2 separate regions of the Homo sapiens genome follow, and region 2 is linked to region 1. The links come from fine-mapping of genetic effects on gene expression. Tissue or cell type: cerebellum. Region 1 holds a variant in brackets; the other region holds the start of a gene. All regions are shown on one strand. Distances are from middle to middle.

Region 1 (8,102 bases):
GGCACCCAGGCAGCAGCCAGACCTGCTCTCTGGGGTCCCAGTCGTTAGGACCGCCTGCCTGCCTGCCTGCCCCCGATGTGCCAGGCTGGAAGGAGGCAAAGGGTGTTGGGCTTCAAGTCAGGACACCTCAGGGCCCACCTTGTCTGTCCTCGTGTGTCATGGGACAACCACTCATACAAACCCCTTCCAGCCTCAGTTTTCTTGCCAGAAAAATGGGGATGTGGAGACCCACTTCTGGGGATTCCCCGTGGGGAATCACGAGGCATGTGAAAGCATTTCCCCTGTTGGAAATGAGCCAAGCAGAGCTTGGCATTGGGCTCTCATGTGCAGAAGGGGAGTGAATGTGGGCCACGAGCAGGATCCTCTGTGGCCTCCGAGGCCCGGCTCCTGGTGATGCACTGGCCTCCTCACAGATGCTCTGTGGGCTGCTGACAATACCTTCAGGCGTCTCTCTCCTGGAATGTGCCTCTTGTGATCAGAGGAAGATTTCTGTCACTTTATCCCCACCCCAGGGAGACCCCAGTCCAATTCCCTCCCTGATTCTTCAGCATCCACAGCGGCTGCCTTCTAGAGGTCCCGAGGCCTCTCCAAACTGTGTGGGCCAGGGTCCACCTTAGTGAGCGCCTCGGGAGGAGTATAGAATCTGTCCATTCAGCACACGGACATAAAACATCTCCGAGGCCTGGCAAGTGGGTTTTAGTTTTTTAAGTGTCCAAACCTAAAGAGAGCCCCTTGCTTCAGCAAAGCAGCCCAGCCCGTGGCGGGGATGTGTCACTCCTCAATCCTGCGTTTTGCTGGCTGGTTTCTGTCCCCAGCCACCACATCAAGTCTGCTTCAGCCCTCAGATGCACCATGGGCTCCTGAGCCCCTGAGGTCTCACTGGGCTCCAGCTGCTCCGACACAGGCTTCTGCTCTCACAGGGGACCGCCGGGCACCGGACGCTGTTCTCACGGTCTCTTTTTTGTGTAGTTTCCCCTTTTCGAAGTTGAGGAAGCTGAAGCTGGAGAAGGGAAGTGACTACTCCACAGGTGCAGAGCTCTTTGGAGCTTTGCAGAAAGAACACTCCCCTCCTGGCCCAGCTGCCTTTTCAGAGCGCCAGGCTGTGTCTGCTCCCTGATGCAGGGCGAGGCTCAGGGATTGCTCTGTCACTCTCTTCTGAGCCCATGAGTCTGTCTCCACAGGTCAGCAGGTTGCCTGGCTGAGGTTTGCTGGGTGGCCTGCTGGCACATCTGGATGAGGGACACCAGGCCAGATGCTCCTGTGCTTCCTGAAGAAGGGACTGACCTCCAGCTGAGGTCAGGGAGCAGAGTTCCCCAACCAGTGCAGAGTATGATGAGGGTGGGGTGGGGGAAGCCTCCTGTGCCCCAGGTCACAATGCCCATGGTCCATTCTGCCACTCCTACAATTCTCATTTCCAGGAGGGTGGGGGGCTCTGGGCTCAGTGGCTGCTGAGTGATGTGTTTTCTGCCTCTGCAGCCTCGCCTCCCCTGTGACAGTGACGGAGGCCGCTGGCAGGGGTCCTGGCATTTCCATTTGGCTGGTGATGGATGGCCATCCGCTTCCATTACATGGGTCCTCTATGAGGAGCCCCTCCCCACCCTCTGCCCTCTCACTGGAGCCACTGGCAGGTCCCCAGGCTGGCAAGGAGCAGCCTCAGAAATGGTTTCCATCCACGGCAATGAGCTGGAGCTGGCGTGCCCACCAGCCTCGGCCTGGACAGTGATAAATAATGGACGAAGCAGATCACAGGCCTCGTGTACTCTGTGTGCCCGTCACTCTGGGATGTGTGTGTGCCATCCAGGATGACTGCGCATGGCTTCCACGAGGTAATGCAGGTGCGGTGCTTCTCGCAAGACCGGCATGACATGAGAGCTGCTCAGATGGTTACTTAGAGCCCAGAGGAAGCACATCCTTCCCGAAGACAAGTGCTGGTGTGGGCGGCTCTGGAAAAATAGCAATAGCTACCTGCTGAGTCCTTGCTACCCAGACACTGCGGATCTTACATGGATCATCTCATCAAGCCCTCTCATCTAGTGAGACAGATGCTATTATCAGCAACACCCCCATTTTACTGAGAGCGGATTGTGGCTGAGAGGAACAGTACTCGGCCCAAGCTGGCATAGCTGGTGGGCAGTACCTCTGGGACTTCACCCCAAGAACTCTGATTGCAGAACACAGCCTCTCATCACCATGTTACCCTGGAAGCCACAGGAGCCCCGAGGTCTTATGGTTTCTACATGGCCTGCAAAGCCTCCTGAGGCTCAGCACCAATTCTTCTAGTTTCCCATTTATAGAGTGCTTAGGCATCCCACAAACACAGCCAAGCAAAACATGCATTTCCCACTGGATCATGAATGCAACACTATGGCTGGGAAGGAAGTATGATTATCCTCATTTTGTATATGAGGAATCTAAGGTTTAGAGTGGTTAAGTGACCAGCCCCAGGTCATACAGCCAGGAAATGACAGAGCAGGAGTTAGAGCCCGGGCTTTTCTGACTCCAAAGTCCATGCTCTTAGCCAAACCTCTGCTACCACCTCCTCTCTGTTCCTTGGCTCCGGGGCTGTTTACTGAGCACCTGCTCTGTGCCAGGCACTGTGCTAGGTATTGGCAAATAAATGCATACAAGGCAGACTCAGTCCCCATCTTCATGGAGTTTCCATTGAGCTGAAGCATCAGGAGATGAGATATAAGAATAAACCTGGGAAGCCGTGGACTGGAGGAAGTGGGCCTCCCCAAGCCCAAGGCCTGGGCATGACTTGAGTATGTGGGAGTGTGAATCCTGTGAACCAAAGTGCAAGGCTGAGGTGCCCATGGCAGTCACAATGCCACCTCTGCCAACTCGCCCTTCTCCAGCATGAAAATGTCCTCCTGCTTAAGACAGTTTACCAGTGTTAAAGTCCTTTGGGGAATTCCCCTGGACCCAGCCATTCCTGGGGCTTCCCCTCATCAAGGCCTTTCCCAGGGTTTGCATCCCATTTGCCTAAGGACACCTTTGTCAGCCATTCCTGATCCTCTAATTTGCATCACTTTCCTTAGGATGGAAAAATTAGCAAAGGGGAGGAAACTGCTATGTTGTCTAGTTGGGAACATTTCCAGGCTTTTCTAACCCATCTGCTTATAGGCAATGTCTGCTCACAGTTCCCATTTCTAATAAATATTTACCAAATTTACATACTGCATGTACAATTCAGCTCATTTATCTTTTTTGAATATACTCATCTCTTTTTGCTGTTCTTTTTTCCAGTTGAGCTTGCCTTCATTATAAAATATTTTTAAAATTAGAATTTTTAAATAAGTTGGCTTAAAAAAATCCTTGAAATACTCAAAGGTAAGCAAATGAGAAAAAGGGATGCCACAAATTTTCAATAGGAGGCTGAAATTGTCCTATTGCATGTGAGTGCTGTAATACTGATCAACACGAGTATTTGGGAAATGGACCTTTAGATAGATAAATTGATCATTAGGTGGTCTGGTCATTAGACTGATTGTCCCCAGGTCCTGTAGGACTTCAGTCTCAGAGCAGAGGGAAGGGGACAGTCAGCCCCATCTCAAGGCCTCCTTGCTTTGTGAACCTTTGAGCCAGGTTTCCTGGGCTGACTAAAGTCACTCTTTTGGCCCCTCTCAAGACAAGCCTTCTCTCCTTTCTGACAGGCTGAGAAAGCAGTGAAAGGCTTCTAGAAGGATCCCAGAAGCTGCCAGGGGTGAGGCTCCATGCCCTCTTCGGTTGGAACCACCACACAGTTAGGTCCAGGTTCAGCCGGGAAGGGAGAAGTGGTTTTTCTTATTTTTTAGGGCATAAACCTTTTTGAAAACCTTCCAGAAACTTTGGTGCCTTTCTCTGGAAACACTCACAGAACCCCCCCAACCCCCATGCACACAACACACATGCACACACAACACACATGTGCACACACAGGCACATGTGCACATGCATATATATGTGCACCCACGCACACATGACACCCATGCACATGTAACGCCCATGCACGTATAACACCCATGCATGCATAACACCCATGCACATACAACACCCATGCACGTGTACATATGCACAAAGCAATGCACACATGTACACACAAACACACACGATAGAACACAACATACATGCACATACAACACACGTGCACATACACACTGTACCCATACACATGAGTATGCACACAATCCATGTATACACAATACACATACACAGGACCTGACATAACATAACATTTTGCATATAATTTTAGGTAAATTTTGGAGTCCATTCCAGGCTATCCAGAGCCTGTGGATAGCCCTGGTCTGGGAGCCAGAAGACCTTGATCCAAGCGTCCTTTGCCTCTGACCCACACTGTGACCTCAGGCTTGTGTGGGCGGGGCC[C/T]TAGAGAGGGGAGGGCAAGCAGGGGAAGTGGAGAGAGAGACAGGGAAACGGGGAGGGAGAGATCAGGACAGGGACAAGGAAAGGGCGTAGGAATAAAAACAGAGATCAAGAGAAAGACAAGGCCAAGTGTGTGGTGCCCGCCTGGAATCCCAACACTCTGAGAGGCCGAGGCGGTGGATCATTTGAGCCCAGGAGTTCAAGACCAGCCTGAGCAACATGGTAAAACCCTGTTTCTACAAAAAATACAAAAATTAGCTGGGCGTGACAGTACGTGCCTGTGTTCCCAGCTACTCGGGGGGCTGAGGTGGGAGGATCACTTGAGGCTAGGAGGTTGAGGCTGCAGTGAGCTGAGATCACACTGCTGCACACCAGCTTGGGCCACAGACTGAGACCCTGTCTCGAAAAAAAAAAGGACAGAGATGGGGAGGACAGAGGCAGAGAGGAAAGGGAGCTACACAGAGATAGGCAGAAAGAAGGGGGACAAAGGGAGAGAGGCGGGGGTGGGGAGGGGAAGGGGAAGGATCTGCCATCAGGCCTTGTCGAAGGGCCCCCAGCCTGGCAGCCAGGATCACCTCTCTCGGGAGGATCGTGGACACATCTCCTACCCCTGGGCCTCAGTCCTGCCTCGCATAGCACGGGAGGGAGGACGTCCTGGGGCGGCTGGCAGGTTTGCAGGCAGCCACTTACTGGAGGAGACTAGAGCCGCTCCAGCCTGCTCCCAGCCAAGAACACCAGCCTGGCTTCCTGTCTTGGCTTCAGAGCCGAGCCCATTAACAATGAATGAGTCCCTGGGGGCCGAGGTGAGGAGGGGGAAAGGGAGGCTGGGTCTGTTCTGGGACCCATATCCAAGCTCCTTTTAAAGTCCCCTCGGGCTCCCCAGCCAAGACTTCTGCGAGCACCGTGACAAGCTGTAGAGAATTGTCCACCAGGGGGCGCTCAAAGTTTTTCTTTGTTTCTCTTCAAATGAAGTCTGCAGTGTTTGCGCTGTTGAAGGACAAATAGGCCCAAGGCTCCTTGTCACTCATTTCGCAGCTGACTTCACTTCCTTTGGATGGGGAGCATCTCACCGGGACACAAATGGGGCCGTGCAGTGTGCTCTCGTCTGGGGAGGAGGTATGGTGCCAGGTCTCTCCTCCCAGCACTGCTGGTGCTGGCTTATCTACAGAACCTTGCAAGGGAGCCCCCCAGCCAACCAGCCCAGTTCTCCCTGTCATTTAACTCCGCCCACGAATTCGCCCATGAGGAGCATCCGCAAGCTTACCCAGACACACCCACGCTTCTCTAAACAGGGCTGTTTTTAACTTACCCTGTAGCGGGACTGGGCTCAGCCCAGAAGTTCTCCAAGTCCAGGACCTCTTAGAGAAGACCCATCCACCCAGCACAGGAAAGCAGGCGGAGGCCCCAAGCGCCACCACCCATGGGAATCCAGGAGACTCGAGAACGAGAAGACCCACTGCTTGTCTGGTTTGGCTGTGATCTATAGCTGAGCTGGTCGGCCCCCTCGTTTAACAAGAAGACATGGCTGCTCTGGGAGGTTGGGGAACTAGATGGGAGGCACACCCTTAGGGGATGGAGCAGGGAGTACCCTCAAACCAGGCCTGCCCACTGCCCAGCTCATCCGCACGGCTCGGCTGCCTCCCCTGTGCCTGTCTGTGAGGGAAGGGACCATCACTCCTGGTCCCCGACATATCTTCAGCACCCAGTGAACTACATGCGCATGATAGGAGTTCAAGGGCTACTTACTTGATGAATAAGAAACCTTCAGAGGCCATATCATACCGTTTCAGAATTGCATATCTACAAGGGGAAGGCCTCATCCACTAGGCATCTTAGCGATGTTACTAAGGAGTTATATATTAGAGTTTTTAATAGCAAGCAAGTGGAAAAACATCAAGGTCAATGTCAGTGCTCTCAGCTGACCATGCCTTGGAGAAACCTGGTTGTTCAGACCTGGATGCCAAGGCCCCCGCCATCTGGGCCAGCTCACCCACTGCAGGCACGGGCCCACTGCAAAAGCAGGCTCTGGAAGCTGGGGCCACCAAGGCAGATGGAAAAGGCTGGGGACCGCCCCACCCCTGGAGGTGGACCTATGTGGCACAAACCTTATTCTGAGTTTCCTGGCATGCGGACACAGACTAGGTGTGTGTTAAGCCAAGGGTCCTGGATTGACTGCAGGAAAGCAGCAAAATGAAGTGGGAGAGAGGAAGGGCTACCCCAGGGAGAAAACAGGTCCCAAAGGCATGGGAAGAGGCAGCCTGAGGCACTGCAGGGGCCCTGACCTAGCGTCTGTATCATCCCCTCTGCTGCCAACTCCATGGGACTCTGGGCAAGTTGCTGAATGTCTCAGGGTTTCAGGACCATTGACTACCAAATGAGTGGGGTCAGACGTGCTCATCTCCATGATCCCTTCTGCTTTGACAGCCCGCCCCAGTTTGGGAAGCACTGGTCTGAATGGAAGCCAGGCAGGGCCTGGGAGTCTGCAGCCAATCCCTGACACCCCTCAGAGCACCCATGGATGGGGTGGGGGCTGGGGTACTCACAAATAGCAGCAGACACTTGTTCTCACGGACGGCCCCGCAGCAGCCCAGGAAGCCGAGCAGAAAGAGCAGGCCCCCCATGGCCAGGAGGATGTAGGCGCCCGTGAGGAGCAGAGGATTGGCAGCCACGATCTCCCGGAAGCCGGTGGGGTCCACCATGACCCAGATGCCGATGGCCAGCAGGCAGGCCCCGCCCAGCTGCTCGGGCCAGTGGAGGAGTTGGGAGGAGAAACAGGCAGAAAGGGAGGTTAGGCACTTCTGACCCACCACTCCCCTGAGCCAGCCCCAGGGTCAGAGGCATCAAGCACTAGGTGAGCCAGGCAGGAATTCACCTGCGGCGAGAGCCAGTGAGTCCCAGCCGCACCTTGAATTGCTTTTAATTTTTCTAGCTGCCGTGACCTTAAGTGCAACACGCATCCTCTAAATCCAATTTCCGACCCAAGCCCCACCTCGGGCTGTATCACATAAAGGCTATTTGCCAATTTTATCTTCTCTTGAAATGTCAGACCTGTAGGATTAGGAGGTCATCTAGTCCAACCCTCTGATTCCATACAGAGGGAACCAACAACTTGCTGAAGGTCACACAGCAAGTTCATGGCAGAGTCAGAGTTTGGTCGCAGGCCCCCTGACTCCAGCCTCAACACCCTAAACAAAGGTCCATGAACATGCTCTGAGTCAGCCCTATGCTGTGTTTGCACCACCCATGCTAGGGGCTGGGAAGACACAGACCAAGTCATCGTCATTGTCCCCCATGGGACTCTCAGTGAGGTTCCAACTTGAGAGTGGGCTCCCCACTCTCAAATCCATAGCTCAAAAGATTTCTTATTTATGTCTCCATCAACATGGGCTCTCTATGCCTTATTTATCTTTGGAAAGAGGCAGCGTAGTCTAGAGAGAGAGCTGTGCCACTTATTAGTTGTGTGACCCTAGGCAAGTGTCAAAATCTGTCTGAGCCTTTTAGCTTCCTTGTGGTCAAAAGAAGACTCAAACACCTTCATCCTAAGGCAGCCCTAAGGAAGAAAGGATAGAAGGCGTTTAGCAGATTTCAATAAATATCTGCTCCATTTTTCTTTTTCTTTCTTTCTTTCTTTCTTTCTTTCTTTCTTTCTTTCTTTCTTTCTTTCTTTCTTTCTCCTTTCTCTCTCTCTCTCTCTCTCTTTCTTTCTTTTTTGAGACAGTCTTGCTCTGCTACCCAGGCTGGAG
Region 2 (8,102 bases), 190 kb after region 1:
CAATCTGATGGGGTATTACTAGTTCCATTTTACAAATCAGGAAATGGAGGCACCAGGGGTTGAATGGTCTAAGGTCACACAATTGATATGAAGTTATGATAAAGCTAACAGGCAAATCCAGGCAGTTTAACCACCACGCACTGCTGCCTCTAAAGAAATAGAGAAACCGAGGCTCAGAGAGAGGCTGTGACTCACACAAGGCCACATCGCTCCATCTGTAACAGTATCAGGGCTGGAACACCAGTCTCCTAATGCCTAGTTCAGCTACCTTTCTGCTCCATCCTGTTGCCTTTTGTACACACTTGCCCACCACCAGTGAACATGTTTTTGCTCATCTCCAAGTTGTTGAATTCACTAATTAAGCCAGCAGTCTTGGGTGCAGACCAGGGGCAAGAGCTGAATCTTAAGACAACAAGTACCCAGATGAAAGACCAGCCCTGCCAGCTGCAAACACAGGCTCACCATCTTACTCTCCCATTCTTTATAAAAAGTGTTTCAAAAGCCAAGTGCAGTGGCTCACGCCTGTAATCTCAGCACTTTGGGAGGCCGAGGCAGGTGAATCACGAGGTCAGGAGTTTGCGACCAGCCTGACCAACATGGTGAAACCCGTCTCTACTAAAAATTCAAAAAAAATTAGCCAGGTGTGGTGGCACACACCTGTAATCCCAGCTACTTGGGAGGCTGAGGCAGGAGAATCGCTTGAACTCGGGAGGCAGAGGTTGCAGTGAGCCAAGATCGCACCACTGCACTCCAGCCTGGGCGACAGAGCAAGACTGTCTCTCAAAAAAAAAAAAAAAAAGTGTTTCATGATCCACCCCCACTCCCTCAGATGGAGCACTAATGCAGGTCCAAGGTGCCAGCCCGGGTGGCAGGAGGAGCCCAAGCTGGTACATTTGCTCAATGGCATCAGGTGGTAGAAACGCCTGATCAATGGGCGTCATCTGCTCAGTGGGACCAGAGTGCTGGTTTCCAAGGCCCCCTCCCTGTGCTGCACCCCAGCTGAGCATGAACAAATGTTCCTGATTTTCCCTCTCAATGGCTGATGAAATAGACCAGAAAAGCAGCCCTCTGGAAAGGGAGAGGTCCCTAAAACCTGCACCCCAGGAACTGAAAGGGCTCTTCCCAAGAAGAGTGGGGAGCGAGCCTGCAGACTAACATGGGGCTCCCAGCAGGGACTGGTTACAGACATTCCCCTCTCTACCCAAAACTGCTGGGCACTTTGTCCTTCAGCTCTGATGGCAGGAGCTGGTTTCTGAAGCTGCTGCATTCACTCAACGCAGGATTTTGCTGTGTACAGGCGGGCAGAGAGAGGCAAGCCAGCCCGGAGAGGCACCTTCCACTGAATGGAAGGCAGAAGGAATGGAGCAGGGCTGCCCAGCCCCCTAAAAGGTTAGACTCTCCTGCTCTAAGTTGCAAGATAGCTCAGAATCTCCTCAGCCAACATATTCATTTTACAGACGGAGGAAGCAGGCTCAAGAGGGGAAATAACCTGCCCAAGGCCACACGGATGACTCAGAAGAGCTAGATTTCAAATCTGCTATTTTCCCTCTTCCTGGCACCCCCTCCCACACATCCTTGAATTAATCCTGTGTCCCTACCCAGCACCCTGCCCTCCAACACACCCCTCAGACCATTAAAATCTCATTTTTTAAAGGGCAGAGGGTTCCTTCCTGGACTCAGCCCAAGGTGTCCTAAACCCAACCCCAAGGTATCCTAAACCCAACTAACTTCGGCTTCTAGAAAGTGTCCTGGAGCTTTCAATGATGTGCTACCATTTCAGACTGGGGTTGGGTAAAAGCACCACATATACTGGCTGTTTGAATGGGTTTGGGGACAAGGGAGACAAGGAAACAGAGTGCCCAAGACTTGAAATGTTGCTAAATCAGAGATCTTGGAGTTTGCCTGGGAGAAGACTGAGCCCACACAAGATACTTTAAGCCCAAACACAGACTTTAGTAGCCCTTGGGGACCTTCAACTCCCTCTCCAATTCAGGAAAAGTGGGGTGGGGGTAGGGAGAAGAGGGGAGGGACAGAACACGGGAAACGCTGGCCTTCTAGGGGCCCCATGCTCCCAGGCAGGTTCCAAGGCAGGGCTGGTCCATGCAGGCTTCCCTCCACAGAAAAACAAGAGTCACTAAAAGCAAAACACAACAAAAAAAAACTTCTTTTGTTTTCCAGCCCCCTGGAATGTCTTAAAGACCTATCCAGACACAGCAGGCTTCTCCACCCTTTCCTTTCTCTCCTCTCTCCTCCTCCTCTTCTATTCAAAATAAAAATCATGCTGATCTGTCTTTATGGCAACTTTGTCCTGGAGCATTTCAGTAGCATCCAACAAAAACATGTGGCAGACTACATTGAACAGAGGAACCTCATCTCTTTCAGGGACCCCCATTTCCCCCACCTTTGTAAGGGACATTAAGGACATGGGAGCAGGAGGGGGGCTGCCCAAGGAGCACAGGTTACCAGCTAAGAGAAAGATGAAAACTTCTACCAACCACAATGAGGCCACGGCACAATCTATGATTTGCTCCTTTGCACTCACTTGGGGTGATGGGAGGAGGGAGGGAACTGGAGAGAAAGATGAGGCAATAGTCCCTCCAATGTCCCTTCAATGTTAGCCCCGCACATGACAAAGATGACAGTCCTCACAGATGCCAGCAGCCGTCGACTTCCCAAGGCACAGACACACAGACTCAACATACAGGGACCCTGAGGCCAGACAACTGGGACCCAGGGCAGATTTCCACCAATAATTGTGAAATGACCAGAAGAATGTGGCCTAGAGACCACAGACCCAGGGGATGAGGGTGGGGGCCAGGGCTCGTTGACTGCTGAGAAATTTAACACTTCTGCCTGGACTGCTGAAGTCTTTAAGGCCCCATCCCCCACCGCCCGCCCTGTGCCTCCCAGTTTACTTGTGCCCAGAGAGAGGATACCCCAAGACCCCCATCCTGCCTTCACCAGACAGGGATTCGACCAGATCCAGGAAACAAAGGTGCAACTTTTACAAAAAGGGTGCATGCATTTTGGGGTTTGGGTTTCTGCAACTCCAAAAACCGTCAAAAAGTTAATTCCCCAACCCACTCTCTCTGCACCAATTCGCAGTTGTAGTTTCTTACATCTTTTTCTGGGGGTAAATTTCTTACTCATCCATTTGCCCTGGCAGCCTTCCCGAGAAAAATCACATCCTGACTCCTAGCCTTTCCAGCCCACGGCGCAGTTATAACTGTGAACCTTTCGCCTCACTCTTGGTCCCGCTCCCCCGTCTGGCTAGTGTAGGGCGGGCTCCTCGGGGCGGGACCCCGCGTAAGTTGGGTGTCTGTGGTCCCTGCGTCCTGGATGTCGGCGCGGTTGCCTCGCAGGAGCCAGAACGCGCTTCCTGCTGGCGAGGGCCGGGGCAGTGCGCCCCCTGGCGGGAGCCCAGTCACCTCACTCCAGCAGGACCCGGAGCCGGCGCGATCCCACCCGAGCCGAGCACCGTCCCAACTGGCTCCCACTGCCCCCTAAATCTGGACGTGCCCGAGCCTCCCACCCACCCAGCACTCCATGGAGTCTCCACTTCCCCAAACCGCACACACCTAAGGAATAAGGGGGGTCCTGGAGGAACGAGTGGCGCCTCCGCCCCGCCCCGCCCCGCTGCCAGGGACCCCAAAGGCAGCCCGCCCTCCATGCAGCTGCCGGGCCCCACAGCCCTCCCGGCCCCGATCGCCGCTCCCAGTCCCTGGTCCCTCACTGTCTTACCGGGTGGCGTGGCGAGCAGCCCCTTTCCGGGCGCAGCCCTGGCCGAAACCCCGAACCTTGTAACCACACCTGCCACCCCGCGCCGTTCTCCAGAAGCCCCCACTCCTCCACCCGGAGCACTGGGAGCCCACCGGCTCTGCACCTGTCCTGGGCGCAGCCCCCGGCCCTCAGCGGACTCCGGGCAGGCACGGGGTGGAGACCGTCCCCGGCCCCCCAGCCCCCGCGTGCTAGTTTGAGTGGAACTTGGTTGCCGGGCTTCCGTCCTGGGATCCCTACTCCACCCCAATTCCCCGCCGCGTCCAGCAGCACCCCCGGGGCGGCGCGCGGGGGGGTCCCCAGGTCCCCGGGGGCGCGGCGGCGGCGTGCGGAGGGCACGGAGGTGCGGAGCCCCATACCTTCCAGCGGCGGCTGCCGGACCCCGCGCCAAATCCCGCCGGCGGCCGGGGGGAAACTTTCCTGGTCGGAGGGGCGCGCTCGCAACTTGCCCGGCGCCGGCTGCCTTCCCGGCGGTGGCGGCGCGTCCGGGGACCCGCAGCGCGAGGCGGCGGCGCTCGCTCGGGGCTCGGGGCCGGGACCGGGGCCGGGGCCGGGGCCGGGGCCGGGGCCGGGGCTGGGGCCGGGGCCGGGGCTGGGGCTCGGGCGGCCTCGCGCGGCTCCGCGGTGGATCGCTCGGCGCTACGTCCGCCCCGCAGCCTGGAGCCCCGCGACGCCGGCGGCAGCTGCACGCCCGCCAGCCCGCCGGCCCCACCTCCGCCGCCGTCCGTCCCTCCCCTCCCCCGCCCTCCCTCCCCCTCCCCAAACCTCCGCCCCTCCCGGCTCCAGACGCCGTTGCTGCCGAGAAGCGCGTCTCCTCTGCGGGCTGCCCCTCGCCTCCCGCCAGCCTCCGCCTCCTCCTCCAACCCCGCGTCCAGGCCTTGTCTGGGGGTCCCTGGGCCCACCCTCTGCCCATCTCCCCTTCCTCCGCCTCCGACCACCTCCCGCTCTGCTCGCGGGCCCTCTCTGCGTCTGAATTCGGAAGATCGTTGCGGGAGTGGGGAGAGGGGCATGCTGGACCCGAAGTGTTTATTCCAGGGGAACTTTCAGCTGACCCCGGGGCCCAAACGCAGGGGTTGGGGTGAGATCCTCGGTCCTGATCGGGCTCCTGGGCTTCCCGCTGCCGGGGGAAGTACCTGTTGAAAGCCTGGGGAACTCACCCTCCTCTGACTTGCAGATAAGAAAGGGGACTTCCTGCATGGAGGGGCCTGACCCCAGGTCAGATGCAAATGACTTGATTGCAAGGGGCCAGATCTGTGTCTCCGGCCTCAGGGCTGAGGTTCTTGCGGGGCTGGGGAGCTTATCTTTTCTTCTCTGTACTGCTGCCACAGCAGCACTGGCTCCCAACCCCTGACATGACTTGCCTGAGACTTTTAACCTCTGAGCCTCCTCTAAACAACTACCCGACCCTGCCCCAGACAAAACGGACAAGCAAGCAGATCAAAACTGACAGCCCAAGTGAAAGTACTGATGACAGGGGCTCGGGTCGCCCACTCCTCTTCCCTTGGCAACTCTGTTTTGAGTCCCAGCTTGAAGCTTCCACACCCCATCCCCGTGGGCCCTAGGCATTCAAGCACACATCAGCTCTGCAGGAGGCCCCTTGGCCAGCTGATTCTCACTAAGGGGTGACTGATAGGAAGGAGTTGACCCTACTCCTGTCTTGTATATGGATGTTGGTAGTCAGGCCACTGGGCAGAGTTTGGGGGGAGGGGGATCTTCTTGTTTTGTTTTTGTTTTGTTTTTGAGACAAGGTCTCGCTCTGCTGACCAGGCTGGACAAGCCTGGTCAACAAGCACAGCTCACTGTAGCCCGACCTCCTGCACGGCTTACTGTAGGCTCGACCTCCTGGGCTCAAGCAATCCAATCCTTCCAACTCAGCCCCCTCGAGTAGCTGGGACCAGAGGCATGTGCCATCATGCCTGGCTAATGTTTTCTGTTGTTTTTGGTGTGTGTGTGTGTGTGTGTGTGTGTGTGTGTGTGTGTGTGCGTGTGTGTTTTGTAGAGCTGGACTCTTACCATGTTGCCCAGGCTGGTCTCCAATTCCTGGCCTCAAGTGATCCTCCCACCTCAGTCTCCCAAAGTGCTGAGATGACAGACGTAGCCACTGCACCCAGCCACCAGCCAGAGTTTTGAGAGGCAGGAAGTGGCTGCCTTTCCTTGCCCACATTCCAGGAAATGGATTCGTCCCTGTAAGGGGATGTCCCTGTAAGGACTTCAGGGATGTCTGGTCCTTTAAAGAACTTCACCGCGTCACCGGGACTCTTAGAGTAGGCACGTGGCTGGAAGAAAAATCCCTGGATCCGCGGTTTCAAAGGGACCCAGAGTGAGCAAAGCTTCACCCAAGGGGAGGAAGTCCCTAATGGTGGAATTTCTATAAGAGGAGGACAAGGAGAAGGGCTCCACATTCACCCTTCAGCTGCCAAAACAGAATGGAGGGTGGAGGCTGAACACCCCACAGGCCCTGCACTTGTGGAATGCTGCTGGGAGAGGCCCCGTGTGAGCCTCCTTGGACACCAGGCGCCACATACATTTAAAGAGGAAAAACGGGAAGCCCACAGCAAGGGTGCTGGAGCTGGGGAAGTGGAGACCAGAGACAGGCAGAGAGAGGGATAGAGTCTCTAAGGGTCTGGGGCTTGGCAGAACGGGGCAGGCGCAGGGGAAGAGAGTGCAGACCCGCTGCACAACTTAGACAACCAGCTCGGTCCCTGACTCCAGTTCCAAGTCAGTTTCCTGGACCTCAGCCTCTCTCCAGCCTCCATGGAGGACCTGGCCCTATCTGTGCATTAGCTAAGGACATCTGCTGAATAGGCTTCTCTAAATCAACTCTTATTTTTTCATTCTTTTTTAATTTACTTAAGTGAGCTTGTTTTTAAAAAGATATGTTAAATTATTACCATAAATGGAAAGCCAGCATCACATTACTATAAATAGAAGGTAACCATCAAAATAAATACAATGAAAATAAGTGTTATTAAATTCTAACAATGTATCTTTAACCACAATAATAATAATACAGTCTAACAAGATACTGCTGCCTGAGGAGGTGTTGAAGCTGAGGTCCCACTTTCTCTTTGAAAGGAAGGTTACCAAAGGCTAGAAAGGTGTTAAAGACACATTAGCAACAAACTCTTCATCAAGAGCATTGATGAAAAGAGAATTGGGAAGGGACCCCCTCCACTCCCACTCCTCACCAGGTCAATTAGGGTATTGGAGGCCCTTGGATTACCTCCAATGACCTTAATTTCCTTGAACATCTCGAATGTCCTCTCAATTGGGAAACATAATTCTATGTATTGGTGCAAAAGTAATTGTGGGCTGGGTGCAGTGGCTCACACCTGTAATCCCAACACTTTGGGAGGCCTAGGTGGGTGGATCACGAGGTCAGGAGATTGAAACCCTCCTGGCCAACATGGTGAAACCCCGTCTCTACTAAAAATACAAAAATTAGCTGGGCATGGCAGCACGTGCCTGTAATCCTAGCTATTCGGGAGGCTGAGGCAGGAGAATTGCTTGAACCCGAGAGGCAGAGGTTGCAGTGAGCCGACATTGCGCCACTGAACTCCAGCCTGGCGACAGAGCTAGACTCTGTCTCAAAAAAAAAAAAAGAAAAAAGTAATTGTGGATCTCATCATTGAATGTAATGGCGAGAACCACAATTACTTTTGTACCAACCTTATATTAGGCCAAAAAAGTACTTTATTTTTTTAAAGTTAGGCGCCCGAAAAATTTAGTCCTGGACAAGATAAGGCTGACTCGGGTTACAGGAAGACCGCACCTCCCTCTCACAAGGTAATCTTGAGGAAATCCCTCCCTTCTCTGGCCTCGGTCCTTACATCTGTAAAATGGAGGCTTGGGCAAATGGCCCATAGAATCCCTTTGGCTGTTTGATGAAAGCAAGTAAGACACCAAGATTGTGGCTTATCAGGAAACTTAGAGGGTGAAGTCTCCACCAAGGAGAGGGGCTAAAGAGGGGAGAAGCTGGGAAGGAACGAAAGAGCAGGTGGTGGGGCTGTGGATGGATGGGCAGTCCTCAGGAGGGAGAAGGAGCAGTGAAGGCCAGAGCCGACCCACTGGAGTCTAGGTTGGCAGAAACCCGGAAGTGGCCTGGCCTGAAAGTTCTAAAAAGATTCGGGAAGGAAACTTGTGGAGAATTCACTGTAATCCAACCACTTCATTTCACCAATAGGGAAACTGAGGAAGAAACATAGACTAGATTCTCATCATGGTTAAGAGCTGGGCATTGAACCCAGACCTCCTGACTCCCAGGCCAGGGTGCTTTCAATACCTCTGGAATTGGGGCATCTAGTGGAAGTGGTTCTTCTGAAAAT

Direction of the effects. Positions count from the first base shown, and alleles are read on the strand shown. Sizes are in standard deviations (SD) of each study's normalised expression.
In carriers of allele T in region 1, the expression in cerebellum of the gene that starts at base 4,462 in region 2 tends to be lower than with C alone (moderate effect, 0.74 SD a copy in GTEx).

What was found. PIP is the estimated chance that this variant, and not a neighbour inherited with it, causes the effect.
Region 2: TSPAN18 starts here. The variant in region 1 is fine-mapped to the expression of TSPAN18 in cerebellum (GTEx, PIP above 0.99). The same link has a PIP of 0.9 or more in cerebellar hemisphere.

The regions. Positions count from the first base shown.
Region 1 is chr11:44,908,700-44,916,801 of GRCh38, reverse strand. TSPAN18 (tetraspanin 18) reads right to left here. Exons shown (of 10, transcript NM_130783.5): 5 at 6,903-7,097. Among named protein-coding and RNA genes, the nearest start is that of TP53I11, 38 kb to the left of the region's middle. RefSeq lists enhancers at 1,127-1,226, 4,939-5,795. The variant C/T (reference allele first, on the strand shown) is at 4,363.
Region 2 is chr11:44,723,322-44,731,423 of GRCh38, reverse strand. TSPAN18 (tetraspanin 18) reads right to left here and starts at 4,462. Exons shown (of 10, transcript NM_130783.5): 1 at 4,137-4,462. All of the region lies in intron 2 of TSPAN18-AS1 (TSPAN18 antisense RNA 1), which reads left to right. RefSeq lists enhancers at 1,957-2,457, 2,458-2,960, 4,676-4,845, 4,212-5,073, 5,074-5,934 and silencers at 3,330-3,499, 4,336-4,485.